Regions from separate parts of the Homo sapiens genome. Here all the other regions are linked to region 1. Evidence: fine-mapped QTL for protein levels in blood plasma. Region 1 holds a variant in brackets. A gene starts in each other region. All regions are shown on their forward strands.

What was found. PIP is the posterior inclusion probability: the model's chance that the variant is causal. The UK Biobank Pharma Proteomics Project read protein levels with antibody pairs (Olink). The fine-mapping took linkage between variants from a reference panel, not from the people measured, so its PIPs are less certain.
Region 2: it holds the start of EGFR, and the variant in region 1 is fine-mapped to the plasma level of the EGFR protein (UK Biobank, PIP above 0.99).
Region 3: ITGA11 starts here. The variant in region 1 is fine-mapped to the plasma level of the ITGA11 protein (UK Biobank, PIP above 0.99).
Region 4: ASPN starts here. The variant in region 1 is fine-mapped to the plasma level of the ASPN protein (UK Biobank, PIP 0.98).
Region 5: GPNMB starts here. The variant in region 1 is fine-mapped to the plasma level of the GPNMB protein (UK Biobank, PIP 0.95).
Region 6: MDGA1 starts here. The variant in region 1 is fine-mapped to the plasma level of the MDGA1 protein (UK Biobank, PIP 0.93).
Region 7: it holds the start of SFRP4, and the variant in region 1 is fine-mapped to the plasma level of the SFRP4 protein (UK Biobank, PIP above 0.99).

The regions. Positions count from the first base shown.
Region 1 is chr11:126,347,247-126,351,486 of GRCh38, forward strand. It overlaps DCPS (decapping enzyme, scavenger), which reads left to right. Exons shown (of 6, transcript NM_014026.6): 6 at 1-2,759. All of the region lies in intron 1 of GSEC (G-quadruplex forming sequence containing lncRNA), which reads right to left. Among named protein-coding and RNA genes, the nearest start is that of GSEC, 6.2 kb to the right of the region's middle. The variant T/C (reference allele first, on the strand shown) is at 2,255.
Region 2 is chr7:55,015,500-55,019,499 of GRCh38, forward strand. It overlaps EGFR (epidermal growth factor receptor), which reads left to right and starts at 3,518. Exons shown (of 28, transcript NM_005228.5): 1 at 3,518-3,866. The coding sequence starts at 3,779. LOC105375284 (a long non-coding RNA gene) reads right to left here and starts at 3,423. Exons shown (of 4, transcript XR_007060329.1): 1 at 1,062-3,423.
Region 3 is chr15:68,430,423-68,434,662 of GRCh38, forward strand. ITGA11 (integrin subunit alpha 11) reads right to left here and starts at 1,741. Exons shown (of 30, transcript NM_001004439.2): 1 at 1,593-1,741. The coding sequence starts at 1,644. RefSeq lists an enhancer at 142-901 and a silencer at 3,448-3,742.
Region 4 is chr9:92,480,566-92,484,565 of GRCh38, forward strand. ASPN (asporin) reads right to left here and starts at 1,941. Exons shown (of 8, transcript NM_017680.6): 1 at 1,728-1,941. The region is part of intron 5 of CENPP (centromere protein P); the gene reads left to right.
Region 5 is chr7:23,244,822-23,249,061 of GRCh38, forward strand. It overlaps GPNMB (glycoprotein nmb), which reads left to right and starts at 1,954. Exons shown (of 11, transcript NM_002510.3): 1 at 1,954-2,106. The coding sequence starts at 2,037. RefSeq lists an enhancer at 3,406-3,525.
Region 6 is chr6:37,695,505-37,699,744 of GRCh38, forward strand. MDGA1 (MAM domain containing glycosylphosphatidylinositol anchor 1) reads right to left here and starts at 2,379. Exons shown (of 17, transcript NM_153487.4): 1 at 1,241-2,379. The coding sequence starts at 1,307. RefSeq lists enhancers at 273-1,002, 1,003-1,732 and silencers at 1,275-1,434, 1,465-1,754, 1,935-1,994, 2,055-2,184, 2,245-2,314 and 3 more.
Region 7 is chr7:37,914,834-37,919,073 of GRCh38, forward strand. It overlaps SFRP4 (secreted frizzled related protein 4), which reads right to left and starts at 1,984. Exons shown (of 6, transcript NM_003014.4): 1 at 1,260-1,984. The coding sequence starts at 1,704.

The DNA of each region.
Region 1 (4,240 bases):
ACAATCTCGCTCCATCACCCAGGCTGGAGTGCAGTGGCACAATCTCGACTCACTGCAACCTCTGCCTCCTGGGTTCAAGTGATTCTCCTGCCTCAGCCTCCTGAGTAGCTGGGACTACAGGGGTGCGCCCCCATGCCCAGCTAATTTTTGTATTTTTAGTAGAGACGGGGTTTCACCATGTTGGCCAGGCTGGTCTCCAACTCCTGGCCTCAGGTGATCCACCCATCTCGGCCTCCCAAAGTGCTGGGATTCCAGGCGTGAGCCACCGCGCCCAGCCCCTGCAATACGTCAACAGTCCCTAGATTCAGGCAACATGGAGTTGCAGCCAAGGAACTTTGAGGTAGTGACCAATGCAGGGAGGTCTGACAGAGAATCAGCAGGATCCATTTCATGGCCACCACACATCTGACTGACTCCTTCTTGGGCTAAGCAAATACTTTTGTGGGCAGTGACACTGGCAGCTGCTGGGGTCTTGGCAGGAGGTTGGATGGAGGTCTTCTCCCAGAGCAGTGTCCAGCTTGCAGGAATGCTCCCTGCGTCTCAGTTGTGCCCATTCCAGGTCCAGGGGAAAGAAGTGACCCGCTTCCCCTCTGAAAGCAGATGTGGTCCCAACAAGCAAACACGGTCTCCATCTCCAGCACCACAACTGCCACGGAGCAGAGGGAGGCCTCCCTGTGGAGCAGCCCTTCCCTGTGGCCTCAGCCCATGCCCTCCTGCCCAGCCCCCAGTGGTGCTGCTGGAGGGTCTGACTCCACGGGCTCCCGCTGACCTTGCCGTTCCTTCCCCTCATCTCGTAGCGCCTGGCCCCTGGAGGAAGGTGGGTAGGAATTTGACACCGGATAAATAAATGTTTGAGGGGCAAGAGAGATGGGACAGAGTTCACCCAACAGGACAGACGAGGCTGGCAGTCACAGCAGAGGGCAGGCACTCAGGTCTGGAGAGGCAGGGCATGGAGACAGGGACCCACACTCTGGAAGGTTTCTCGACTCCCCCGAGGGGCTGGCCAGTTCTGTCTTCCTTCTGCCCACTCTGTGGGGAGGAGCCTCTCTGGGATAGCGTCCCCTCACTCCTCTCCCAGCCTCGTTTATCTTCACCACAGTACAGAAGGGGGCCCCTCTCCAGGCCTCACCACTTAACTTTTCTTGTACATGGAAAGACAAGCCTCTGCTAGAGGCCTGGCAAGGGTTCCCCTTCAGAGCCAGCCAGTGCTCTGCTGCTGTAATCTCCAGGGACCCTGCCGGCCACGGCCCCCATGCAGCTCCCTCCCTCAATCCAACCCTCTTTGGGCTTATCACCCTCAAGGTCTAGAGTGCACCAGGGTTGGCTGCTCTGCCAAGTCCTGTTGAGACTCCAAAAGCATAGTCTGTCTTTATTAGGGTGACCTTCATATCAGACTCCCAGGTAACTCAAGATGATAGCTTTGCAATATAGTGCCTCCTTTTATTCCTATTTGTGAGTTTCTCCGCTTTCCTCACTAGACTGAGAGGGTCTTGAGGGTAGGAGCTTTGTTTTAGTTATCTCTCTATCCCTGGCCCCTAAGACACTACCTGGCTCAGCAAACCAACCTTTGAGACAAAGCAACATTATAACACTACATTCATATAGCAGATCATTTCATGACCCACATTCTCCTTCCTTTTTACGAAGAAATGGGCTCAGGATGTCTTGTCCAGCATTATGGAGTGAACGTCAGCTCCAGGAAGCAGAGACTTCTGGCCCTTTGTTCACCATTTCCCCAGAACCTAGGGTGGTGACTCACCTATAAGTGCTCAAAAAACATGTGGCGAATGGAGGACCAGAGCTAGGCTCTGAATGAGGCCTCCTGGATCTCACGCAGGGGATGGAGAGTAAGGACCAGCCCCTCTACCTCATGCTTTCTTCCTGCTATCTCGTAAGAGCCCAACATCCTTCTGTCCTGAGCAAGCCACAAGCTGCAGCCCTGCCTTGACAAAATGGCAAATGCCAGCCCCTCTGGCAGCATGACACCTTGGTCCTGTGTGCTGCAGAGTGCCTCATGTGTTGAACTGTGTGCCCTCAGAAGCATGCCATGCCCCCGCTCTGCTGGAGCAGTGGCAGATGTCACCCTTCCTAGATAAATCCTGGACGGCTCCACGACTGGCTTTTAGCCCTCAACACTTGGCCTACATTCTTTCTGGCTTGGTTGGAGAAGGAAAGAAGCAGTTGGAGGCATGACTGCTATTGTTCCTTGGCTTCTCTCCATTTGTCTCAAACTTTCCTAATAGAGCAAAATTGC[T/C]GAGTGGTCTCTATTTACCAACATGAAACAGAAAAATACCATCTCAGGCTCCATATTCCATGTCCCTGTTGAATACAGATCCCCGAACTGAGAAATAAGAAACAACTACATACGAAGTAATACTTGAAAATGTTTCTCTTGTAATACTTCCATATCCAAAGCATTTGAATATATTTATTTTATTGATGTAGGTCTGCCAACTCTTCCTTCTCAGGAAGGACTGTTTTTATTCCAAACATGTATATATAAGGTTAAAATGTATTTTTTAAAATAAGATAATTATTGATAGTTGTTTTTAAAATAGCCTTGCTTAGCAAAATAAATGTTGGCAACCCTAAGTTTGTTCTATTATAATATTATTGAAATTACATTGAATTCTGAAATCCATGTCAACTTGAAGTTACCAAGTTTTAACCACTGTTAGAAAATAAGCAGGAATGAAATCTGTTTCAAGCGTTTCAATTTCAATACAATTTAATAAACAGGCTTTGAGCATCTACCCCCACCCCCTTTTGGTTTTTTTGCAAGCACCTGGAGGCAGAGCTCATGTGGAGCTTACAATTTAGTAGGAACACAGGCATTAATTACAAAGTAATTACAATGCTGATGAGTGTGTTGAAGTGGAGGGGGCTATGGGGCTTCAGCCCCAAAAAGCTAAACCTGCAGGCTAAAACTTTAAAAAAATATATTTAATTGGCAAATAAAAATAGTATACATTTATGGTGTACAACATGTTTTGTTATATGTATACACTGTGGAATCACTAAATCGGGCTAATTAACATATGCATTATGTCACATATTTATCATTTTGTAATGGTGAGAACATTTAAAATCTCTGTGAGCAATTTTCAAGTATACAGTACATTGCTTTTTTTGTTTTTTTGAAACAGAGTCTCACTGTGTCACCCAGGCTGGAGGGCAGTGGCGCAGTCTCGACTCACTGCAACCTCCACCTCCTGGGTTCAAGCGATTCAGCCTCCCAAGTAGCTGAGATTACAGGCGCACACCACCACACCTGGCTAATTTTGTAGTTTTATAGTAGAGACGGGGTTTCACCATGTTGGACAAGCTGGTCTAGAACTCCTGACCTCAAGTGATCTGTCTGCCTCAGCTTCCCAAAGTGCTGGGATTACAGGCGTAGGCCACCACCCCCCGCCCAGTACATTGTTATTAACTATTGTCACCATGTGGCACAATAGATCTCTGGAACTTCTTCCTCCCATCCAACTGAAAGTTTGCATTCTCTGACCATCTCCCCATTCCAACAGGCAACCACCATTCTACTCTCTGCTTCTGTGAGTTCCACTTTGTTAGGTTCTACACACGAGATCACGCAGCGTTTGTCTTCTTGTGCTCTAGGCTGGATCTTGGTTATCAGCCCAATGACAAGCAGAGTAAAGGCCCGGAAGTTAGGGAGACCAGGGCTCAGTGTGGCTGGCACTGAGAGCTGAGCTTCTAGCGTGGGCCCACACATACATTTAAGACTGTAGCCAATTTTCCTTTCAGAACCACGATGAAGAAATGAAAGCCAAGGCCAAGAAAATCTTTAATGTTCTGTTCCTCCCCTGCTTGGGAAGTAGAGTGGTCTGAAGGCTCCAACACAGAATCTGTGCCATAACCAAGTCTTATCTGGGGCAAGTTACATAACTGCTCATGAAATAGGAGTGATAACAATGCTTCCCCCAGACGGTTTTTCTGAGGGTTAAATAAGAATTTTGTGGGACATAGTAATCACTCAGTAAATGTTCTGGTCTGAGAGTGACCAAAAGGATGGAACTAGAGATATTTGGGCAAGATATTTGCTATGGCCTGAACGTCTGTGTTCCCCTAAAATTCATATGTGGAAATCCTAACACCCAAGGCAATCGTGGGGCCTTTGGGAGGTGATTAGGCCATGAGGGTGGGGGGCCCCCATTAATGGGATTAGTGCCTCATAAAAGAGATCCCAGAGTCACCCCTAGGCCCTTCCTCTCACTGTGAGGTT
Region 2 (4,000 bases), not on the chromosome of region 1:
TACTAATGACAAAGGAGAAATGCTTCAGCAGTTTTCTGTCAGCACATTACCCCTTGAAAAAGCTGCTTCTTCCACATTCTGCAAGAGATGGGTCTCAACTCAGAGCTCAAGGCAAATGACTTCCTTCAAGGAGAAGGAATAAACAGTCTCAGAAACCATGAAAGCCTGCCCCCAGGAGTGTCCCTGAACCTCAGCAGGGGCCACACTTACCTTGCAGAAATAGGTGAGGCATGCTCCTGGTACAAAATCCCAATGGTACAGAAGGACAAATTGAAAAACAAGTCTCCCTCTAAACCCCTGACCCCGAGCTACCTAGTTCTCCTCCCTAGAGGCAAAGCTGTTACCAGATTCTTGTATCTCCTTAACATATATCCTTAGAAGAGCTGTCAAGTGAACACATGTTTAAGTGAAAACCTATTTTAGAAGTGCATTTTCTTAAGGAACTTTAGGGTTGGAAGGAACCTGTGTCAGTCCTTAATTCACAACCTCCATTAGTACTTATTGTTCTTGCACAAAAATCTTTCTCAAAAAAGCCCTTTCCACTCTGACATAGCTTATTCTACTTTTACTTAGCTCCAATAACTTATAAAACATATTTTTGAAAGTCTAAAATCTGCCACTATGTTTTTTTTTCCTAATCAATCTTTACTTTGACCTCTAAGCCAGAGAAAACAGGTGGTCAAATGCCTTTTGCCTAAGATGGAACTTAGAATATTTGAAGACCTCAGATCTTCACCCTGCCAAATAACGTGTTTCTCCTCCCCTTTCACAGAGCATTTGGTTTTAGGAAATTCAGAGCCACATTCCTTATAGACAAGACTAAACTCTTATTCAACATACTCAGAAACTTCTTCTAAGAGGATAACCACTCATCAGAGGAAAAAAGTTTCTCATGTACAGCTGGCAAAGGGATGGAACCATCTGTGTTATTAAAATTGACAGACGCTTATGAGATTTATTAAGGGAAATACTAGAGTCTTAGTACATACTTGCTAATATAGCATACATGAAGGCTTTATCTATAATTTTTTTGGCCAAGCAGAAATTTTGGTATTACTCACCCTAACAAATTTCCAAGACATTATGAAATAGAATTTTAGGTCCTGACATCACCATTTGTCTCAGGTTTTGAAGCGTTGCTGGACAAGAGGGGTAAAACACGGCTCTGCCTTGGATTCAAAGTTGGCCTCTCATACTAGCAAGTATACCTTGGTATCCTGGTCACTTCTCCCGGCCACAGCATCACATTGCTATAAAAGGCAGATACAAGTATTAACCAGCTCACAGGTTATCAGATAAGCTTAGTCTGACCAATGCTTAACACAGCAACTGGGCCACTATTGTCATTCCTGTGGTGGTGGCACACACACCCAGCCTCTGTCCGGGCCATGGTCTAGGACCACCCTCCACAGAGGCTGTGAGCTAGAGCCCTAACTGTGCAGGGCCCTAACTATGCCAGGCTACTTATCTCTCTTAAGAGGACTTCATTAGTGCCTGCTCGGCCATACAGTTTTTTACTTACCAAGTAACACAGTTATCAGCACACTCCAGGTACTAGCCAAGGACTACAAAATCAACGTGAATGTCAGCTTTTGTATCAAAAGCTCAAAGGAGAAACTCAAACTTTACATAGATGTCCCATGAAGATGTTCAGCAAACCCATTCTTCTCTGTTCCCTGGAATCCATCCCAGTATTGTGCTATGTGTGTGTCTAGTAATTCTTTACAAAAAGCTCTGTTTCTTGTGATGCTATCAGATCACATTGAAGAATATACAAGCCGTACTATGAAGGCTGTTGTCTCATATAGTCCTAACGTAGTGAGAACTGATGTTCTTACATGCTGTCTTTTTGGGCACTCAAAGAAATTCCTGTACAGTCTTACAAATCAGTTGTAGCTTAAATTGATTTGTGTTGTGACTTGTACACACAGGTCACATTCCCTTGACAGAAAATATAGTTTAAAACCAAATTTGCAGCCCTTGTTAAGTGAATGCACAGGACTTTATTGTATTCAGGTCTTTTATTGTAAGACTCACTCCTGTCTTCATTTTATGTTCCACTGTTGTGCTTCCCATTTGCCTTTCTCTAGTTTTGTTTTCTGTGTTTCTACGGACTGCTCTCAGCCCAGGTGTGCAGGAAGCACACACATGCCTGCAGAGCCTTCATGGCCTCTGCATTCAGGGCATGACTTCAACGCACAGTGGCTGTACTGATTTGTTAAAACAAAGGAACAGATTACTTCTCCTAATTCACAGGGAAGTTCCAGGTTGTGCGGGCAGTGAGCAGACCTGTGTCTGTCTGCGCTTGCCCTGGTGAAAAACCCCACCGTTCAGGCTGCAGGGTGCGAGACCCAGGCACAAACATTTTGCTGGATGAGGAGGAAAGATGTAAGGTTGCTCCCCTTCAGAGACAGCAAAGGGCAGGTCTGTAGCTTCACTTACTTCAGGATTGTGATTTTTGACAGAGCCGAGAGATCAGGGTTGTTGAACCAGGCCTGAAGGTCCTAGTGAATCTCGTGAAGAGAGGAGGGGTCTGGCTGTAACATGGACCTAGAGGACATTTTTACTGCAGGAGAAGGAACAGTGGGGATGGGGTGGACTTGCCAAAGGAATATAGCTCAAGTTCCTGCAGCCCAAAAAAGCTCAGTTTCTTTTGGCCAAAGCTTCCGCGAGTTTCCCTGGCATTTCTCCTGCGGGAGCTACAGGGGCAGTGGGACACTTAGCCTCTCTAAAAGCACCTCCACGGCTGTTTGTGTCAAGCCTTTATTCCAAGAGCTTCACTTTTGCGAAGTAATGTGCTTCACACATTGGCTTCAAAGTACCCATGGCTGGTTGCAATAAACATTAAGGAGGCCTGTCTCTGCACCCGGAGTTGGGTGCCCTCATTTCAGATGATTTCGAGGGTGCTTGACAAGATCTGAAGGACCCTCGGACTTTAGAGCACCACCTCGGACGCCTGGCACCCCTGCCGCGCGGGCACGGCGACCTCCTCAGCTGCCAGGCCAGCCTCTGATCCCCGAGAGGGTCCCGTAGTGCTGCAGGGGAGGTGGGGACCCGAATAAAGGAGCAGTTTCCCCGTCGGTGCCATTATCCGACGCTGGCTCTAAGGCTCGGCCAGTCTGTCTAAAGCTGGTACAAGTTTGCTTTGTAAAACAAAAGAAGGGAAAGGGGGAAGGGGACCCTGGCACAGATTTGGCTCGACCTGGACATAGGCTGGGCCTGCAAGTCCGCGGGGACCGGGTCCAGAGGGGCAGTGCTGGGAACGCCCCTCTCGGAAATTAACTCCTCAGGGCACCCGCTCCCCTCCCATGCGCCGCCCCACTCCCGCCGGAGACTAGGTCCCGCGGGGGCCACCGCTGTCCACCGCCTCCGGCGGCCGCTGGCCTTGGGTCCCCGCTGCTGGTTCTCCTCCCTCCTCCTCGCATTCTCCTCCTCCTCTGCTCCTCCCGATCCCTCCTCCGCCGCCTGGTCCCTCCTCCTCCCGCCCTGCCTCCCCGCGCCTCGGCCCGCGCGAGCTAGACGTCCGGGCAGCCCCCGGCGCAGCGCGGCCGCAGCAGCCTCCGCCCCCCGCACGGTGTGAGCGCCCGACGCGGCCGAGGCGGCCGGAGTCCCGAGCTAGCCCCGGCGGCCGCCGCCGCCCAGACCGGACGACAGGCCACCTCGTCGGCGTCCGCCCGAGTCCCCGCCTCGCCGCCAACGCCACAACCACCGCGCACGGCCCCCTGACTCCGTCCAGTATTGATCGGGAGAGCCGGAGCGAGCTCTTCGGGGAGCAGCGATGCGACCCTCCGGGACGGCCGGGGCAGCGCTCCTGGCGCTGCTGGCTGCGCTCTGCCCGGCGAGTCGGGCTCTGGAGGAAAAGAAAGGTAAGGGCGTGTCTCGCCGGCTCCCGCGCCGCCCCCGGATCGCGCCCCGGACCCCGCAGCCCGCCCAACCGCGCACCGGCGCACCGGCTCGGCGCCCGCGCCCCCGCCCGTCCTTTCCTGTTTCCTTGAGATCA
Region 3 (4,240 bases), not on the chromosome of region 1:
GAACAGCTAGCAGGGTGCAGAGCCAGAAGTGGAAGCCAGGTCTGATTCCAAAGCCATTGCTCTTAGCTTCCTGAGGTCCAGGCTGTCCCTAGCCCCTAAGGCAGCCACTCCTTCCCAAGGTTCTGATGCAGCCACCTATCTGGAGTCACACAGGAGTGCGTCTCTTTTCTTGTGGCTGGATCTCCTAGTGATATGAGGACAGTTCCTGGAGAAGATTCTCCCCTCCTGTCTAAACACACCTAAATGGGCTTGGCCTCCTCCCGCAGCTGGCTTCTAGTTGCATATTGGCCTGGTGGCAGTTCTTCCCCTGCTCTCCCTTCCAAGCCCCCACAACTCAATGTATCAATGATTGTTTTAAACTGTGACTCTAGGATTCCACTAGCCAGAGGCCCTTTCAACCATGGGCCCTCTGAGAAGCTCCTCTGTAGGCCGACAGGAGGGTGGACTTGCTTCGCGTGGTACCCGGGGACTGGGGCAAGCGGCTGCGGGATAGGGGTCTCCACCTGAGCTCCCTGAGGGCACCTCTCCCACTACCACCGCATCTGACCCCCACTACTGGCCCCAGCTCGGGCCTGGAGCCCACGCAGAAGGGGAGGCAAGGTTGAGCGCCCACACCCGGCCAGTAACCGAGGCGCTGGCCCTTGCCGGAGCACTTGGCCGTCTTCCGCAGAACAGCATCACTGGCAGCCGCCCCGCGTGGAGGGTGGAGCCGGGGAGCCCGGTGTGGGACGGCCGGGGCCAGGGTACCCTAGGGCGGAGAGCTCAGGGCTGGCTTCCCGCTCCCAGCCGCGCGCCCCTCGGGCCGGAGGTTCCTGCCGCGCCCCGACACCTGGAGTGCATTAGGCGGCGGCGCGCGTCTAGGCGACGGCGGCTTTCCCCAGATTATTGAATAATTGCATAATTCCGAGCGCGGGTTGGGAGGCAATGCCGGGTCCCTACCCCGGGTGTCAGGTAACGTTTCGGGGGTCCTGCGCTGCGCGACTGTGTCCCGCCGCTGCTGGCCGGGCAGACGAGAGCTAGCCCCCGCCTACCGGCCATCGCCCCGGGGCTTTGCTCTGTCTTTGGCCGGAGGCACTCTGCGCAGCCCTCACCCCCACCCTTCAGCCCTCCGGGGCCGCCGCGCCCGGCTCTCCAAACTTTGAGATGCTTCCCCGGAGCCAGGCAGGAGGGCAGCCAGGGCACACTCTCTTGGCGCTGATTCCCTTCCCCAGCCGGGGCCGTGCGCCCTCGGCGCTCCCGGGACACCCGAGTGCCCCTGGCAGCCGTGCGGGAACCCCGGCATGGGCCTTGGAGGCACCTAAGGCGCCCAGGAGGGCCACCAGATCTGGGAGCTTTTCAACTCAAGCCTCTTCAACTCTTCCCAAACACACCAAAGAGTCCCGGCTTTCAATAGCCTTCGCACCTCCCTCTTTAGCGAAACTTGACTGAACCGCTAGACTGGGGCCAGTCCCTGGGGGACCCACGTCCCCAAGAGCAGCTGAGGTCTGACCCTGGGAGGAGGGTCGCGTCCCGATCCTGGCCGCTGGATCCAAGCCCCGAGGGCCCAGGGAGGGACTCCGAGAGGCAAGGGGAGGCAGAGGGTGGGCACCTACCTGGCCACAGGCTGAGCGCCCAGGCCACCACCAGGCCCCTGGGCAGGTCCATGGCCCGCGGCACGGCGGCTGGGTCCGGTGTGCAGCGGCGGCGGGGGGCGGCAAGCCAGAGCGGCAGCCTCCTCGGCGCGGCGCCTGCAGCCTGCACTGCGCGGGGCGCCGGGCTCCCTGACAGCTGCGGCTCATTCAGAGGAAGTGGGAGGGCTCGAGCGGAGGGGAGGGGCGCCGGACACCACTCCGGCTCGGGCTCTGGGCCAGTCTCGGCCGCTCTGCCACCTGGGCAGGCGGCGCGCTGCCTCGACGCGCCTGTGCAGCGCTCCTTCTCCGCCAACCCCACGTCAGCCTCTGGAGAAAACTCCAGAGAACCGCTCCTGGGAACCCCCTCACCAGTGTAGCACCGCACCGCCTCAGTCAGATTCTGTTCAGGAAAAGTGGTTTTTATTCCCATTTCCCAGTGAAAAGAGATTCACAAAACTCAGAGGGTACCCAAGCTGGCTCAGGAACACCTGCTGGAACGCAGGTCTCCCTTGGCCAAGTGAGTGGATGTCCCTCAAAGGTCCATTCTAAGACATCCCCGTGTCTCCCTGCACCCTGCGGCTTGAATTGTAGAGGCTAGTGTTTCTTCTGACCCTGGAATACATGCAGATTCGCCTCCACTGCCACTCCCTGAGCCTCCACACCTGAGGCATTCCAAAGCACCCAGGGACACCGTGCACCCCCTCTTAACCTAACGTGAAGCTCTTCTTTGTAACCCTGCCACCTTCTTTCCCTCTTCTAATCACTGGTAGTTAAATTCAATGCACATTTATCTCAAGAGCTTTAAATCCAGGCCCCGGACCTCCACCGCGCTTGTGGAGGCTTTTCCAGCAATGGAGGAAGCCGAGGCAGAGGGTAGGAAGGCCAAGATGCAGGGAAAGCCACAGCAGAGCGCCCTTCCCCCACTTTCTCAGGAAAGGCTTCCTTCACCCCCTCTTCCCGTCCCCACCAGGTTGAGTCCCAGACACATGCTGATATTCCCCAGCCCGCTCTCCCTCATTTCTCTTCATTGTGCTTAGTAGAGAAGCAAGGCATCAATTGGTGTGATCATTTAACTTTTCTCTCCTGTGCAGACTGAAAACACCATCAGGGTAGAAATCTCTGGTTCACAATGGAGTACTCAGCCCCTAACACCCAGGAACAAAGTAGGTGGGCGGGTGGATGGATGGGTGAGTACAGGTGGTGTGTGGGTGCACAAAGGATAGAGTTTTCTATCTGGGAGGTATTGGAAGGGCTTCCCAGAGGAGGTGATGTTCAGTCAGGGCCCCTGAAGATGAGCTGGAGTTTGAGAAGACCCAGGTTCACATAAGTGAAGTGGGCTTGTGCTCGTCTCCCAACCTCACTATCTTTCGGTTGGCTATCTGGGTTTTACTTCATCTTCACCTCACCCATTCAGCCACAGACTCGGGGAAGGTGATTCCGTCCCTGGTGTGTGTGTGTGTGTGTGTGTGTGTGTAAGGAGGCATGCGGTTCAGGCTGAAATGAATCAGTATGTTGCCCTTCCCAGCCCATCGTTTCAGAAAGGGCAATATGACAAAAGAAAAAGTTTTTTTGGGAAGCAAGCTTTCTTGCCTTTCTAAAAGAGCCCCTAGAACAAACAAACAAATGAACTAACTCTCTCTCCTCACCTCTCCCACTCCTGCCTCCTCTCCCAGCCTGGGACAAGGAACTTTGTAGGCTCAGAAGTTGACAGGGTCAGGGTAGGGAAGGAGGATCTGGCCTTGAGATGAGGTGGACACTGGATGACAGAATGGAGGATCTTGTTGAACTCCTGAATGAAGCCACCCCTTAACCCCACTCCCCTTGGGACTTATCAGTTATACGACAGTGAGTCCTCTTCACTGAGTTGAGTTTAAGCCAGCTGAGTTGAATGTAGAACACCCCTACAGCTAGGGAATGGGCTGCAGCCCACATTCCTGCCTTGCACAAATCTCCAGGTGCATCAGAACGACCTGGAGCACGTGCAAAGAATGCAAATTCCCCAAGGATCAGGGCATGCTGGTGGGTGCCCCAGGCACCTCTGACGTGTGGGTGGTCTGCAGCTTGTGCTCAGAGTCTGCATGCTGCTTGCTGAAGGGGCGCACTGTAGTGGCTGTCCTAGCTGCGCTGCTGCTGGTCTCGCTGGTAACAATTCTACCATTCATTCACCTTCACCGTCCTCACAGGTGCCTGGGGAATGGGGGTCCTGAGGATCACTCTGTGTGCTTTTGTGTAATGTGGGAGGGTGAGGGGAGAGGTGTGCCCTCATTTGTTCTTTCAACAGATCCTACAGAGTGCCTACTGTGCCCCTGTGCTCTGTAGGACACACGGAAGGAGAACCCCACACTAGGGCAGCTGGTGATGGAGCTGAGGAGACAAGACATAACCATGTATTTATTTAATCATAATCTGTTATTTATTAATCTATTTAAAACCATTTATTATTTCATCACTATTAAACATTATTTAAATCACACCCAAGGCAGCAGCATATGAGTGACAAGTGCACAATCCAGACTCTAAGGCTGGAGAACTGCAGAGAATTTGGTGAAGGGCTTTATGAAAGCTGTGATTTCTGTTGAATAATAATAATAACTCTTTACATGTACACAGTGTTTTAACTGATTTATTTA
Region 4 (4,000 bases), not on the chromosome of region 1:
TAAAGCTTAAGAAGCACATAAGCTTTCTTGTTTCCATTTAACTGGTCTACAAACTTAGAAAGTTTATCTAAGTGAAATGGTATTTCCTCTCAGACACTATTATTAGGTAAATAAGTCACTGTGCTTTTAAATCCCATGTTTAAAGGCCCGCTTGGCAACTTTTCCCCTGGGTTTAAACATGCCTATCAGTTCACAGGTACCAGTAGCAGATTTCAGCATATAAATGTGATATAACATACTCCATATATTTCACCGAAGGAATCCAAACCAAATTCAGATGTAATCAAGGCATAGTCTTGTAAGCTAACAAATGAGTTAAAAGTCCAACATGCATTTGGAAACTTATTCACAGTACCATTTGTTCATGGATACTGATAAAGATAGCACTTTCCTTAAAAAGTAGTTAATTTTACCTTAGAAGTATAACTAGCATTCTGACAAAGCATTCTAGCTGTTCTTCCTTTTATACTAATTTTGCCCTTCATTAATTTCTCCACATGTCTAGCAATCAAGCTACTGTCTTAAAAAACAAAATCTACTGCCTCTCCATTTTTATGATGTTTCCCACAGTGCCTCAAGACTTGTGCTTGTAAAGTTAATTGTTTTTGTCTCAAACCTCAGATCAGTTATCAGAATATTTGTTTTTAATTGAGTAGTTAGTTGTAACAGAAGACTATATATCCTCTGTTCTTTCCACTACTACACTATACTCCTTAATGCCAAAAAACAAACTAAAAACATCAGGATCCTTTTATGTGTGTGGGCTTGTGCTCGATTTTTCTTTCTTTTTTCATTTCTTTCTTTTAACAGCTTGATTCTTGGATTTAAACAACTTTATTTTTAGGGAAATACAACCCCCTCAGGTTCTTTATGACTCAGTCCCTACACCATGTGGCCACTGTTTCCTGGGTGCCACACCTCTGAATAGATTAACATGAAAGAATGCTGTGCGCTATTTAGATTACTAGGGAGTAGAATATTGAATACATTGCTTAAATTTTTTAATCTAAAATTTAATCAGAAATTTACTTTGGGAGTAGACAAAGGAAATCTTTGAAAGTGTTAAATTCTGACTGTATACATGCTGTGAAAATTTCCTAATCTTTCATATTGAATATAGTGCTAGCTAAACTATTGCTGATAAGTATTCTTTCTTGGAATTGAATAGATTTCCATTTGAACTTTTCAGTGCCATTTCATTATAATAAGGAAGACATTTATCAAGGAAAAAAATGAATATTCAAATGTATAAGTAAAATTGACATTTCAGTAATTCACACATTTTAAATACACATTAGAAAATATTTTAAATATTGAAAAATATATTTACTGTTTCATTTAATATAGCTGTGATATCCCCAAACTTCATGATCATTATTATAGCAATGTTATTTTCCTAGATAAACATACAAGATGTTTATTTAGATGACTTTTAAAATCAATCATGTTAACATTTATGGTAAGGCATAATGACAGGTTTTCACTTAGCTGAAAAAAAAAGTCACATAATTATATTTAAAATACATTCATTATAGGTAAGACATAAAACTAGAATAATTTTAGGTACAAATTTAGGTTTGTATTTAAATGCTGATTTTTAAGAAATTATAGAGATAAACTTTGGACTTTATCCTATTATTTATAAGCATTTATTAATAACATTAATGTCTCCTTAGTATTGACTGTAAAGTATACATCGATACTTGTAAGATAGACATGAAACATACCTGTCAGAAGAGAGTAGTCCTCCTAAAAGTAGAAGTTATCCACCATGTACTACTTATCTATAATGTAAATGTTCTCAGACACTGTGTAAGAAGAAAAGATGAGGAGGTATTACATTTAAAAGAAAAAAAACACCCTTCAACACAGTCCTGGTGTGGCTGCACCCTGGGTGATACTGGAATAAACTGCTCCCACAGATTAGTCCATGTTAGTACTGAGGAGCAAGATTAAAACTTGTTACTGCTCATGTGTTTTCCATCACTGTTTGTATCGTAGCCAAGACTTCTAGCTAAACTCTAGACGTCTACTGGAAGATTCTGAAGAAGAAAAAAAAAGAAAGTTTAATAATGCATGGCAACTGGCCATTGAAAGTGCAGTCGGAGTCATTCAAGAAATACCTAGTTTTAAAAATATTAGATTCTTAAGTGAATGAATATTTGTAAATTACAATTTCAAAAATTACTCAACCTGTATAGACTAATAAAATATTTATCAATCTGAATAAAGGATACCAACATTACTGAAGTATATACCCAAACTTCAGATGTACCTGAGAAAGAACCATACTTTTTTTTTCTTCTAATGACTGTAGCTATTGCATTATGCATACTTCTCCAGACTTTTTTTTTTTTTTAAGCTTTTAGCACTGCTATAGCATGTCAGGGAAACTATGGATGAGGCTCCATGAACTGCTCCCTGGACTCAACATATGTGATATAACACAGACACACATGCATGTCCAAGTAACACCCTCTTAGGATGCATACAACTTTCCCTTTTCAAGAGAATATTAGCTATGGCCTCACTGACATTTAGGGAGACTTAGAGCAGGGAAGATGCTATTTCCTGAAAATAAATCATTATTTGTACCCCCTTTCCACTCATCCCCAAGAGACTGCCCAATTCTACATCAACTAAGACCTTCAAGAGAGGACAGTTTTCTTTTTTTTTTTTTTGAGACGGAGTCTCACTCTGTCACCCAGGCTGGAGTGCGGTGGCGCAATCTTGGCTTACTGCAAGCTCTGCCTCCCAGGTTCACGCCATTCTCCTGCCTCAGCCTCCCGAGTAGCTGGGACTGCAGGCGCCCGCCACCACGCCTGGCTAATTTTTTGGTTTTTTAATAGAGACAGTGTTTCATTGTGTTAGCCAGGATGGTCTCGATCTCCTGACCTCGTGATCTGCCCGCCTCGGCCTCCCAAAGTGCTGGGATTACAGGCATGAGCCACCATGGCCGGCCTGAGAGGACAGTTTTCTAACCCTAGTGGCAAGGACTTACTGTTGTAAGTGACCCCAATGGTTCTTCCCAACTGTTGTATAGATTTGGAGGCCAGCAAAGAGCTTTTCCAGTGGGTTAGAAGACCTGTTCTCTACTGTCATCAAGAGTCTGACCATCGTTTGTTCCCTCTCTCCAGAGAAATGGCACACATTGTGTTAAGCAAGGCAGCTACAGTCCTAAAGAATACATGTGCCTCAGATGTGCATAGCAGCTGGCTATGTGTTCATCCTCCCCTCACTTAAATAAAGTACTCCTCCTTGGACCTCTAGGCTGACAGTTCCAGGCAGCTCGGTAGTCCCATTAGTGGCCCTCTGTAACTCAGGCCCCATCCTAGCCCTGCAGCACCTTAGGGAATGACGGCCCTCCTGTTTGGTTTAGAATGCTCATATTCTCATTTATTCAAGTATATTTCAGTTGCAAATGTATCTGTTAACTGGATGAATTGGGAACATAATGAAAATATGAACTGGATTTTTAAAATCTTTGTATCCAGAGCATCTAGTGTTTGCCTAAATTCCTTCAGAACACAGTCATAAACAGGAAGCCCTTGGGTCAAATTCAGTTTGTCCTGCACAATGTTTTGTTTCTGAACTGTTTATTGAAGTGTATGTTACCAAAAAAAAACATATCATAATGGTACAACTCAATTAATTTTTACAAAATGACCCCAATCAAGAAATCCCAGCCTCACACTCCATTCTCATACATCCAGAATCCCTCCTCTTACTCCTCAAGTCACAGCCTGAGTTCAGCACCATAGGTTATTTCCTGAACTTTATATAAATGGAATCATACTGTGCATTCTCTTTTGCATCTGGCTTTTTTCATTCAGTGACATGCTTTTGAGATCCATTCGTGTCATTGTGATACACAGTAGTTCATTCTTGTCACTGTATAGTATTCTCATACATGAATAAGCCACAAATTGTTTATATATTCAACTAGATTAATTACCTTTTGGAGAGGTACTATGAACGTTCCTCAGTCTGTCATTTGGGG
Region 5 (4,240 bases), not on the chromosome of region 1:
AACACTTCCAATTTATTTAGAGACGGGGTGGCTAATCTGGCTAGAAATATGAGCCAGAACTGTGTCTGCAACAAAGGACAAAAATATCTTTAAAAATGTTAATAGTAGCTTTTCCTTAAATTGAAAAGGTGTTTTTTTTTAATTGTAAAAGTTATGTGTTTGTCATAAAAAGCAAATAGTGCTGTAGGCAGCTGAGGTGGGAAGATCACTTGAGGCCAGGAGTTCAAGACCAGCCTGGGCAGCATAGTGAGATTTTTGTCTCTACAAAAAATAAAAAGCAAATAAAAAATTAGCCGAGTGTGGTGGTGTGTGCCTGTAGTCCTACCTACTTGGAAGGCTGAGGTGGGAGGATCACTTGAGCCTAGGAGTTCAAGGCTGCAATGAGCTATAATCATGCCACTGCACTCCGGCCTGGGCAACAGAGTGAGAGCCTGTCTCTAAAAAAAAAAAAAAAAAAAGTTTTTAAGTAATTTAAAAAGCAAATAACTATATACATTATTCGCTTTACATTACATGAAACTAATAAGTATTTCCATTATTCCTTTATTCATCAATATTTGAAAATTGTTTCAGTCATGAATAATGTGTTCCTTTCGTTGTTTTCCCCTTCATATTTGCTGCAAAGGCTGTAAAAGGCACTCTACAGAGTTGTTTGCCGCCTTAGGGATGGAAGTCAGCCACTCCTGCTGTATGGATTTTAGTTTCATAGGCTATTTCCATTCCTCCTTGACACACTGAACCATAAATCAATACCCCAAGTTTTACCCTCACCTGCAACCAAGGTTTCTACTGCACTGAAAATGGCCATGTGAATGTGAGTTTGAGAAAGGTCACATATGGTAAAGTTTTCATGTTGCCACATTTTCTGCATACTCTGTAACCAGGAATGATTTGACTGTATAAATTTATCTTACAGACACACTTGTTTGTACATTTAATGCCTGCTTTCTATAATATGAAAAAATACACAGAACGTTTTATGCAATTGGCTCTGAGTAATGCAACACATAAATGCTTTGAGAGCAGTTACCAAAAATTATGCAGGTTATTACAAAAGTTATATGGAATTGCACAGATATTCTAAATGTGCTTTTGAGTAAATTTCTCAGCTACCAGAGGCCTGGGCAGCTGTTTCCAGCACATCCTGGCACAACATTCATGTTATCATCCACTTATGTATTCCACAATTTCAAATGATTGATAAGACACCTCCCCCATCTTTGCTTCCTCTTGGAGGAAAAAAATATACAAGCAATCACGAGCACAGGAGCAGGTGGACAACTACATCTTAGGAAAGGGTGCGTAACTGTGAACTCTAAACGTGAGCTGGGTGCCTGATGCAGTATAGGAACCACAGTAAGTCGATAATCAGTGAGGCTGGAGGATTGAAATTTTATTTGGTAAAGAATATTGAGCCAGGCGCGGTGGCTCATGCCTGTAATCCCAGCACTTTGGGAAGCCGAGGCGGGCAGATCACAAGGTCAGGAGATCGAGACCAGCCTGGCCAACATAGTGAAACCTGCCTCTACTAAAAATACAAAAAATTAGCCGGGCATGGTGGCGGGCACCTGTAATTCCAGCTACTCAGGAGGCTGAGGCAGGAGAATGGCTTGAACCTGGGAGGTGGAAGTTGCAGTGAGCTGAGATCGTGCCATTGCACTCCAGCCTGGGAGACAGTGTGAGACTCCATCTCAAAAAAAAAAAATGAATATTGAAATAGAGTCTATAGGAAAAAAACTCCTTGAATCTAGTAAATGTGGAATCACAAAATTGAAATAATGTGCATCTGAAAAGTGAATAAATAGATGCCAAGAAGGAGTGAGTCATAAGCACATGAGTTGTAAGAGGTTGAACTTGAGAGACCAGATCAGGCAGTGCCGCTTAATACCATCACATGATCCTCCCCGAGGCCCTGTATTTAATTAAAATAGAGAGGGAGGCACCACAGATGCCAGAAGAACACTGTTGCTCTTGGTGGACGGGCCCAGAGGAATTCAGAGTTAAACCTTGAGTGCCTGCGTCCGTGAGAATTCAGCATGGAATGTCTCTACTATTTCCTGGGATTTCTGCTCCTGGCTGCAAGATTGCCACTTGATGCCGCCAAACGTGAGTAACCCTTAATTTCTATGTTTAACCCATTCTCTGGCCATTGGCTGAAATGATGGCTAATAATATCCTCTGAACTAGAGGTTGGACTGAAGTTCTTCAGGAAGCTTTCATCTCTGGCTCACTCATCTCTTCTTCTGCAAACTGTTGGGAAGGCTGAAACTACAGCAAAATGCCTCCAGCTCCATTCTTTGCTTTCGGCTCATGGAAAGTAAAAACTATGCTGCCCTTCTCTTGTGAAGCTTCTTTTCCATTGCAATTGCAACCCATTCTTGCCAGACAGTGGTTGGGGGAGGGTTGGACAGCCTCCGGCCACAGAACAAAGCAACTCCACCAACTAAACTATGTCCAGCTTCCATCCAAAAGGGTGGAGACCTCACATGAAATGGGGTCTCCAATCTGGAGGCAAATTTACGAATCTCCCCAGCCCTGAAGCTATTGCTCCTCCTGCGGGGCTTCCTCACAGACCTGCAGGAGCTTGCTGGGAGAGGAGCTGAAGCCCAGGCTCTCTACCCTGGTCAGGCAGGAGAGGCCAGGGCATTTTTAACAATACTGATACCCACGCAATGAAACCGGAATCTTTGGGAGTGGGGTCAGAGGATCCTTGTTTTAAAAGTTCCTCTTGGGATCTGCCTATGCAGCCAGGGTCCAGACCACTGAAGCAGTGTGCAGATTCGCGAGAGGAAGAGAGCTGAGCCGCTGTAACCCTGGGCCTGGGATTGCGGGGACGGGACGGGTGGGAAGCGGCCAAAGGCGCAGCGGCTTCTGGTCAGAGCCGCAGAGGCCTGAGACGTGGGCCGCGCCCCGGCCCAGGAGACCCCGCGGCCGCGCCCTAACCCTCAGTCTCCCGACTGCGACTGCGACCCGGGAAAACGCCTACGTTTTTGGAAAGGAAGTCCCATCACAGGGAGCTGACCCGGTGTCAGCGCGCAGCACGTTCCCGGCCCGCAGTGCGCCGCGCGTCCTCCTAGCAGCCCGCGGAGCCCGGCACTGTGATGGTCCCGCTTCCCACACGAGGCCACGGGCCACAGAGTGGGCAAGGAACTCGCCCCAAGCCACACAGCGGGTAAGTTGAGGAGGCAGCCTTCCATCCCGACCTCTGTCCTTCCTGCCCGGGTTTGGGGTTGGACAGGCTCGGGCTCCCCGCCAGCCTAGGGGCTGGGTCTCCAGTGGCTTTGCTCCATTTCCTCATTTCCTTCAAAACGAGGAGTTTTCGTTTCCTCATTTGCAAAACTGGGTAATTGTGTTCTTGTGAGATCAGCTGCTTGGCGTGAGAGACGTGCATGGTGGGGATTGTTCCTACGGAGGCAGACCTGCACCCACCCTCAGGATACCTCCCAGGACAGGCTACTTTAAAGACGAAGGAACACAGAATAGACCCGATGGGGGACACCTGCTATTATTCCACCCTCTTTCACCAGTCCACTTCGCTCTGCTCAATAAAACAGATTAGCAGGAGGCCGAATCAGCGCTGTCAGCTCGAGAGGAGTCCTCAGCCTCTTGGGCAGTGTAACAAAACCCAGCCATTCACCAGGTTCACCTTGCTCTGGACTAAATATTCTGCCCAGAAAAAAATAAGGGCAGGCAGAATGTAGCAGTGTATCAAGCACTAAAGATTTCCTACCATTTTCCATTCGTAGCCCTGAAGGAAGGAGAAAGTGTGGACAAGGTAGGTGGAGGCAGCCCAGCCACCACCTCTCTGCTGGTGGACACAGCAAGGATGCCAAAGTGTGGAGGCAGAGTCGGCTGCAGCACTGGGTGCGACCTCAAATTTACCTTCACATTGATTGCCCCCAAAACCCACCCCCACAGGCTTTTATTTTTCTTTTAAAATCTGCTTACTATTGGGTTTTTTTTTTTTTAATCAATTTTTTTAGAGACAGGGTCTTACTCTCACCCAGGCTGGAGTGCAGTGGTGTGATCACAGCTCACTGCAGCCTCCAACTCCTGGGCTAAAGGTGATCTTCCACCTCAGCCTCCTGAGTAGCTGGGACCACAGGCACGTGCCACCACACCCAGATAATTTTTGTATTTTTTGTAGAAATGGGATCTTACTACATTGCCCAGGCTGGCCTCAAACTTCTGGGCTCAGTCCTCCCTTGGCCTCCCAGAATGCTAGGACTACAGGCATGAG
Region 6 (4,240 bases), not on the chromosome of region 1:
GCCAGCTAGCTGGGCAGGGCCAGGAGCATGTCACCTCTCAGACACCCTTCAGGACACCCCTTCTTCTTGCCAGGCACAGGCAGATGGGTCAGCACCCTCCAGGGTGCTTTAGCCTCAGCACCTGAGGCTGGCAACCAGTAGTCAGTGCCTATACTACCCCACAAAGAACAGGTCAACCTCCCCTGGATCTAAAAGAGGAATCATTAGTCCCTCCACCCAACAGAAAAGGAAAGAGAGAATCCTGCCCGCCCCAGCCACACATCACTAAAAAGGGACCTGGACAAACCATCCTGCAGTAAAGAGAAAGCAAAGTAAGGGCCACTGGGCCCCTGAGAATGATTTTTTGTGCTGTGGGGTTAAGGCACTGCGGGAGGCTGAGCCCAGGTGACTGAATGGATGATGCCTGCCCCGGGCCTTCCCTGGGAAAACCCACAGGATGGAAGGGGGAAGGGGTAACCAGAGTCTCCCTTGGTAACCACAGCGAGGCGTGCGGACGCAGGAGCAAGGCTGCGTGGCAGGAGGCAGAGTTTGGACACGTATCCCGGTGGGTGCGTGCCGTGTTTGCGTTTTCTGGGGATGGTGGCTGAATGTATCTGTGTGTGCGCGCAGGAAGGAAGGTGGGGTTGGGGTTTGTAGCCAAGAACCGGGGACAGGAAGAACTGGTTCAGGGAAGGTCCGAAAAGGGATGCCGGGGTCGAAGGCGCCAGGGCCAGGGGATGCCGGCATCCTGATCAGGGTGTCAAGCCCTGAGTAGAAGAAGCGAAGCCGCAGCAACAGCGGGGAAGGCGAGCCCGCCGCCCGGCCTTGGTGCTGACAGCCGGCTCGCCCGCAAGCCGCGCGGCAACTCCGGCTCATGCATCGCTTGGCTTCCACTCCGGAGGCCGAGCCAGGACGAGGTTTCGGTGCAAGTCGCTGCACCAGTCCTAGACTGGGTCTGTCCGGGTCTCCCGAGCCGACCGGGTGCTCTCAAGGGTTCCTAATCATTCCCACCTCTAGCAGGGTGTGGGAAAGTGGGTGCCTCCTCCTGACATCCCGGCTTCCCACCAGACCCTACGACCGGCCCCTGTGTTCCGAAGCAGCTAGCTCGGTCTCCACGCGCCCTGGAGAGGGCGGGGACGCGGGCATCCACTCCAGAGTCCGAGTCGAGGTCTCCACCAAACCCCGGCAGCGCGCACTTTGCGCCTCTTGCAAAGTTTCCGCGCGAGGTTAAGCCAAGGTGGAGCGGGACGCGGGCTCTTACCGTAGACTCCTTGTCCCCGGCAGTGGAAGGGGATCAGCGCCAGAAGTAGAAGGCAGGTCACCTCCATCTTCACGGCCGGTGCTTCATCCCCGCGAGGCGGCGCAGCCCGAGAGGCGGCGGGGGGCGCATTCGCCGGGGCCCCGCGACGCCCCTATGTCCCCCCCTTTCCCTGAGAGGTGAGAGAGAGAGCGGCGACGAAGACCAGGAGACTGAAGAGGCGGAGGTGGCGGCGACCCGTGTTTCTCCTCCGGCGGGGCCGCTGCCCGCGTGGGGACGCAGGGGGCGCTGGCCCAGCCCCGGGTGCCTCGGCGCGCCCGGCACAGCAGCCAGCGCCCCGACCCGAGGAGCCCGGCCGCCGAGCCGCCCCGGGTACCCAGGGCCGTCCGCGCGGGATGCTAGGCGCCGGGGACCTCTCGGCGGCGGAGGCGGCGCTTCGATCCAACAGGCCACGGACGACTGACAAACTTGTCGTTTCCCCGCACTGGGGCCGCCCCTCAGCGGAGCGGAGTCGGGGAGGCCGGGGCTCCGCTCGAGTTAATCAATCTGCTGTTTCCAGTCCTGCGGCCGCTGCCGTGGGCTCAGCGGCCCGACTCCAGGGGGCCGGGCTGAAAGCACTCGCGGCGGCGAAGCAGCCCCGGGCCCGGCCCTCCTGATCCGGGGAGCAGCGCGGGCTGGGTTCGGCCGAGGGACGAGCGCCGCGGGTCCCCGGGTCCGTGAAGTTAGCCGAGCCGCCGATAAACCCGGGGGAAGAATAGCAGCCCGGCGCCCCGCGGGAATCTGGAGAGCAATTCCAGGCAAGAAGGGCCCCAGAAAACGGGGAAAGGAGGAAAGTTTGAGTCTTTTGAAAAATATTCGCGCTCTCGCCCAGGCCGGGGCTGCGGCGCGGGCGCCGCTCGCCGCCTCCGCTCGCCGCGCTCCTCTCCCGCCGTCTGGCCGCGGCCGTAGCCCTCCCGGGCTCCGAGCTCTCGGGAGAGCGGGGCTACGCCGCGCCCCAAGTTGGTCGTCCCCGCCCCCGCCCGGCGGCCTTGGCCTGCGGGGGCCCAGAGCGGGCGGGGCCGGGCCGGGCTCCGGGGCGCGGCGGCCGCTCGGCTCCGGGCCGCGGGAGCGCTCCGCTCGCTCAGCAACTTGGGCTTTGCTGTGCTGCTTTTTCGCCCCTCCGAGCTTTTCATTCCGCGCTCCTCCCGCCTCCCTCCCTCTCTTCCTCCTCCCTCCTCCTCGCGTCTCCTCGTTCGGTCTCTCGCTCTCCCACCCGTTGTCGCTCGCTCTCCTGTTTGATTCCCCTCCAGTTAAAAAAAGGAGCCAATTAAAGGCAGCCCAGCTCGCCTGGCCCAGCCTCTGTCCAATTTCCTCGCCTCCCCCAGGACCAATTAGAGAAAACAAAACAGGGCTGGGGGAAGCTGACTGCCTGCCTTTCTCTTTCTCTTTCTCTTTCTCTTTCTCTCTCTCTCTCTCTCTCTCTCTCTCTCTCTCTCTCTCTCTCTCTCTCTTTCTCTCTCTCTCCTCTCTCTCTCTTCTCTCTCTCCTCTCTCTCTCCCTCTCGCTCTCTCTCCCTTCCTCTCCTCTCCTCTCTTTCCCTTTCTCCTCTCCCTCTCTCTCTCTTCCTCTCTCCGCCCCCTAACATTCCCCCCCAACCCCGCCCAGCAGGAAAATGTCAGAAAGCAGAAATGGATCCATCTATCCCGAGGACAGTGGCGGAGGGACCTGGGTTTCGGCGGGGGCTCTGCAGCCGCGCGCTCGCACACTCGCTGTTCTCCAGCCTTGCACACCCAGACTAGCTGGCCGAGCCGGGTGCACCGTTGCCAGCAGCCCGCGGGGCAAACACGGCCGCTCGCTTCGGAGACCCATGCCCGCAGGGCACTGCACACTTCGTAAATGTTTTGCACTTTGGGGAGGCGGGACTGAAGCGGGGGTCCTAGGGAAAGGCCGGGCGCCTGCGGTTCCTGGGGTCCTGCAGCCGCGCGAGACGGGCCGCGGCTGTGGGTCTGCAAGGCTGTCTGCCCGGCTCGAGAGGCCCCCGCCCCTTTCCAGGCGTCTGGTGCTGGGGCCGGGCCGGAGCAGCTGGCGGAGAGGTCGCGCTGAGAGCTCCTGCCCTTGCCGCGGCCCACAGGTTGCCAACAGGTTTGCTCGCACGACCCCTCCGCCAGAGCTTCCCTAAGTCACCCCACATTTTCCTCGGCTAGCCACTCTTCCCATCTTGCCTCCCCTCGGGACCTCAGGCGCCCCCAAGCGCCCCGGGGGCACACCTCCTTCCGGCTGCCGAACCCGAGCCCCGCTCCAGCGGCGGGAGTCCGGCACTCGGGTCTCAGCCGCCTCGAAGGGGCCCTCGCGGAGCAGGAGTGCGGAGAACGCTCCTCCCAAACGCCCGCGGGGAGGGGCGTAGGCTGGCAAGCGAGGCTGGTGGCCTCCCCCGCGCCTCCGATCCCGCCCCGCGCCCAACCCGGGTCCTGCTAATCTCACCTGCTCCACCTGTCGCCGTTATTTATCTCAGCGTGTGCGCAAGAATTGTTTTAGGTCGGCCCGTGGGAGCGCAGACAATCGCAGCAGCTAACAAGCGGGGAGACTACGAACCCCCCCTCCCTTCGCCCCCTGGAACTGCTCAATATCTTGATGGTGGTTCCACGGCTCTATGCATTTGTCAAAACTCAAAGATCTCCACACTCCAAAAAGGTTAGTCTGCATATAAATTGAAACATAAATTTTTTTAAAATAATAATAATGAACCGTCCCTTCCCCAGGCCCATTTCCTGCTGGGTCTCTCCTCCCTTGACTCTCCAGGGCTTAAGCCCCACCGGAGCGCGCGCTCCTGACTGCTGGAAGAGGAGCGGGAGGTGTCGGGAAGTGCCTGGTGGCATGGGGGGGTTCCACCTTCCTTTCTCAGCCCCCTTTCTGTCCATCTCAGGAAGCCCGAGAACATCCGAAGATTCCTATTCTCTAGCCCACCTCCACTCGTTTGCGCCTCCCTTGTGCCCTCTTCCGTCTTTTCTCTCCTTTCTACCCCGT
Region 7 (4,240 bases), not on the chromosome of region 1:
CAGCCTGGGCAACAGAGTGAGGCTCCATCTCAAAAAAAGAAAACAAGACAAAAAATATTTATATAAGTAAAAACGGCATGTGATTGTTGACTTCTCCTTTCATAATGATATCCAGGGCTTAGGAAAGAAATCCTCTGGGGGAATATTTGCCTATCCAAGCACAAATCGATGTGAATGTATATCCATTTAACCTCACTGGTATATACAACCAAACTGGATAAATCACATCACTCTCTCCCAAAGTCATATTTAAATGTTGATTTTCCAAGTTAACAGTTTATGTTAATCAAAATAACCAAAATATTTCCAAATCCCTACCTCATATCTTGCAGTGCAGAAACAGTTCACAGGTATATAACCAAAACCAAGCATAACCCTCTATTATTTATATAATTTAAACAATAAATATGTTTTCTTTCCTAAAACTCTAAATTAGAGAGGAGTTTCCATTTACCCTGTTCACTTAACCACTCCTCCTTCATGTTTAGAGCAATGCTCTGGGGTATAACTTCAGAGATTCCAGCACAGCAATATCATAGTCTGTTTAAATGTGGGGTAACCTGGGCCAGATAAAGCCTGGATAAAAGAATGCAAAAATATTCCTAGGTTTCATTTCAAGAAGTGAATTTAAACCTCTCCTTCTTTTTAGAAAAGCAGTCAAATGACCAAAGAAAAAAGAAGGAAGTGGAAGCAGAGATGGGGTTAACTAAAATGCCACTGTAGTTGGCTCCGGGCCAATGACTATGAAACAGACCTCACAATTTTCCAGGGAAACTGCAATTACAAATCTCACTCCTGGTGGGAAGCAATGACCGTTACTGCTTTTTCAGAAAAAAAAAAACTTTTTAAGAAGTAGCGCTAAATGGAACGAGTATTGGCACCTGCTTGGTGAGATTATTTTGGGCATTAAATGAGTCAATAACGTGTAATGTGTTTAACACTTGCTCAGACACCTAGCAACACCTGTTTACTGCTATTATCATTTCTGTTATTACTATAAATGCAAACATCATCGAAGGCTCCCTTTGTAAGCAAAATCTTTTTTTTTTTCTTTATGGGGTGCAGTGCTCTCCGCTAGCTCCTAAAATTCCTATGGGAGAAACCAGACTTTTTCTGAAGAAAATGTTTCCCCCATTCTTTCCCACCTCCTACAAGCCTCAGACGCCCCTGGCAGCCTTAGGTGTGGCCGCCCAGTTCTCGATTGGCAGCCACAGCCCCGGGCGCCTCCTCGCCTCCCTCCATCCTTCCTACGGCCTCACCCTCCGGGAGGTCCGTGACGATGGCTTCAGGCGAGATGCACACGCCACGGTCATAGACAGGCAGCTCGTCGCAGGCCAGGCTTTCGGGCCAGCTGTGGTTGTACATCTTCATGAGGGGCTCGCAGTCGTCGCGCGCGCGTTGGCACACCGACTTGCACGGCTTGATAGGGTCGTGCAGGAACTCCAGGGTGCAAATGGGCGCGTACATGGCACAGAGGAAGAAGCGCAGCACGGCGCTGCAGTTCACGTCCACCAGCTCCTCGTACTGCTCGATGGCCAGGATGGCGTTCTCCTGCGTGCTGTGGTGCAGGTGGTTGGGCATCCGCGTGATGTTCCAGGGCATGTGCCGGCACATAGGGATGCGCACCGCCTCGCAGGGCGCGCCGCGCACGCCCAGCGCCAGGTGCAGCCACAGGCACAGCGCCACTAGGATGGAGAGGAACATGGCACTGCCCTCTCGCGCTGCGACCCCGGCAGACAGAAAGCGCCCTTCTCTTCCTGCCACCCTCATCTTTCGCTGTCCCTTCGCCGAGGAAGAAATCCTCTGGGGCGCAGGAGAGTTTCTTCCCCCAAACTCCAGTCGGCAGCAAAGCGGGGCCGCGGGGTCCGGCCGCGGAGCTCCGCCGTCTGGCACACAGGGCACGAGCAGCGCCAGCTCTCAGCCTTCGGGGCGCGAACCCGCCCGGGCAGCTCCAGTCCCGGACTCCGCAGCTCGGAGCGCAGCCAGCCACGGCCATTGCGGGACCCTATTTATCCCGACACCTCCCCTGACGTGGGCTCGGAACGCTCCCTTGGCAGCTGCAGCCGCGGCGCGGGCTCCCCCTCGGCCGCCCCACCCCCAGGCCCGTCGGTGCAGAAGCGGTGACATCACCCCCTCTGGGCCGCAGCCCAGGGCTGGAAGCCTGCTTTCCCCCTAAAGTCCCTCCTTTTTAGTCTGGCCAGTCTTTTTTCTTCGGACCAAGAAAAAGAACCTCTGGCAGTTGTTTTCGACACCGGATACAAGAGGGTGCGGGAGAGAATTTCAAGAGAGAGAAAGACACTCTTTGGCTGAAAACTGAACTTTGCTCCCTCTGCCTTAGAGTTTTTCCAAGTATAGAGTTGGGGGAAAATAGGAGCTTCTGCTGCCCTCTAATTCTGAAATATATTTGCTTTCTCCGGTAGGGGGCATGAGGAGCGCTGAGGACAGTTGGGACAATGTCCTGCAAGGCAGGCGAGAGTGCAGTGAATGTCAGAACAGGAGGGTCACGTTGTATAAATCACTCCCACTCCGCCCTTAGTTGTGTGGAGTGTGGTTTGTTGTTGTTGTTGCTAGTAGACAGTTTGGGCCGAAATTTTTCCAGTATAACACTTGGTTTGTTTCTGCTCCAGGAAGTTAACAGAACTGGGGGAAGGTGTGCTAGCATCTTCCAGCTTCAGAAATGTCTTCTAACATTTCCTCTTCCTTCTAACTCCCTGTTCCCCTCTGCAGCATTAGTGGAACCCAGGAGAAAACATTGGGCACCACAATCTGAAAGGTCTCCCCTGCTCTGATCCTTCATGCCAAAGGATTTCCACCTCAGCAGCCTAAAATCTTGATTTTTGATGTGCTCAGAGACTGTTGCTTGAGTTGAGTAAGAAGCTGTGTACTATGGGATGCAAGTATGTATGTTTTGCTTTCTCTTTTATCTTACTTGCATTAGGAAAAGGTAGTCCAATTGCTGGCTCAGCTATCTACAGAAAAGGGAGGATTTATTTATATGAGATTGATGTATATCAATCTTCAGGTGGTAAGACTTCTGGTATATGCTATTTATTAGGGCATCAGCAATATGGAAACATGTTCTCTGAATGTTAATCTTTAAAAACATAGTTTAACTTGAATTTAAGGCACATGGTTTTTCTCTCCAAAGCTTAAACCTACACAATTAGTTTAGTTTTGACTGAGGATTAAAACTAAAGACTAAGGATTAAAACAGCTGAGGAAACAACAAGCACAAGTGACATCTATTGGGAATTTACAATGGTCAAGGTATGAAGCTAAGAACTTTAAATGCATTATCTTATTTTTTAGGGAACATGAATTAAACATAGTAAGTGAAAAGGATAAATGAGACAAATACATTTCAGGATTCATCCAAAGAGTCTGGTTCTTATTTAGGGGAAGCCCAGGGTGTTCTTACACTGCCAAGCCACTCTAGAAAGGTAATCTAGTTCCTATAGAACCAGTCTCCACCTCCAAAGATGCCAAGCCAGGCTAGTAAAATATCACATGAGGAGGAAAGCCCAGATGACATCTCAAGCCATTTCTAGCAGTAAACTCCAATGAGTCTAAACCCTTCACTGGGTGAAAAAGATTTTCAGCTGGAGTTCCTACCTGGGGAGCAAGAGAAAGAGCTGAACTACCCTACACTTTTCCTATGAATCTGAGCAGGGCAAACTCGGAGAGGGCTCAAATTTCTGCAGCCAGTTTGAACCTGCTGCATCTGTTTAACTATGTAAGTACCAAGTCACAAAGTCTTATGGGCTTCCCTGATGTTCTCTGAGGCATGCCCTTTAAGAAAAGGTAAGAGGAAATGAAGAGCCCTTCTTCCTAAAGCTTTGTGCCTGCCCCATTCGGCCCATTGGTAGTGTCTCTGGTGGTTCGACAGACAGGGGGCAGCAGAGAAGGATGCATCAGGAAAACCTGTCAACTGTCCCTCCTCTTCGGGACTTCCAGGGAGGCTGTGATTCTAGAACACCCTACTTCAGCATTCAGTCCATTCTTTCCATGCCTTACATTTATTTAACAAGGCTCGGGAAGTTGCCTCATTCAGTGGCTTCTCTCTGGTGACTCCTTTTGGTCTCCTCAAGTGCCTGTTCTTTGCCCATCCTTTAAATGTCTGGAGCTCTCTGGGGCTCCATCCTAATCCTTCTTCTCACACTCAACACTCCCCTGAACTCCAGGTTTTCTCACCCCCAACACTTAGGACATTTGGGGCCAGATAATTTTCTCTTCATTTGGG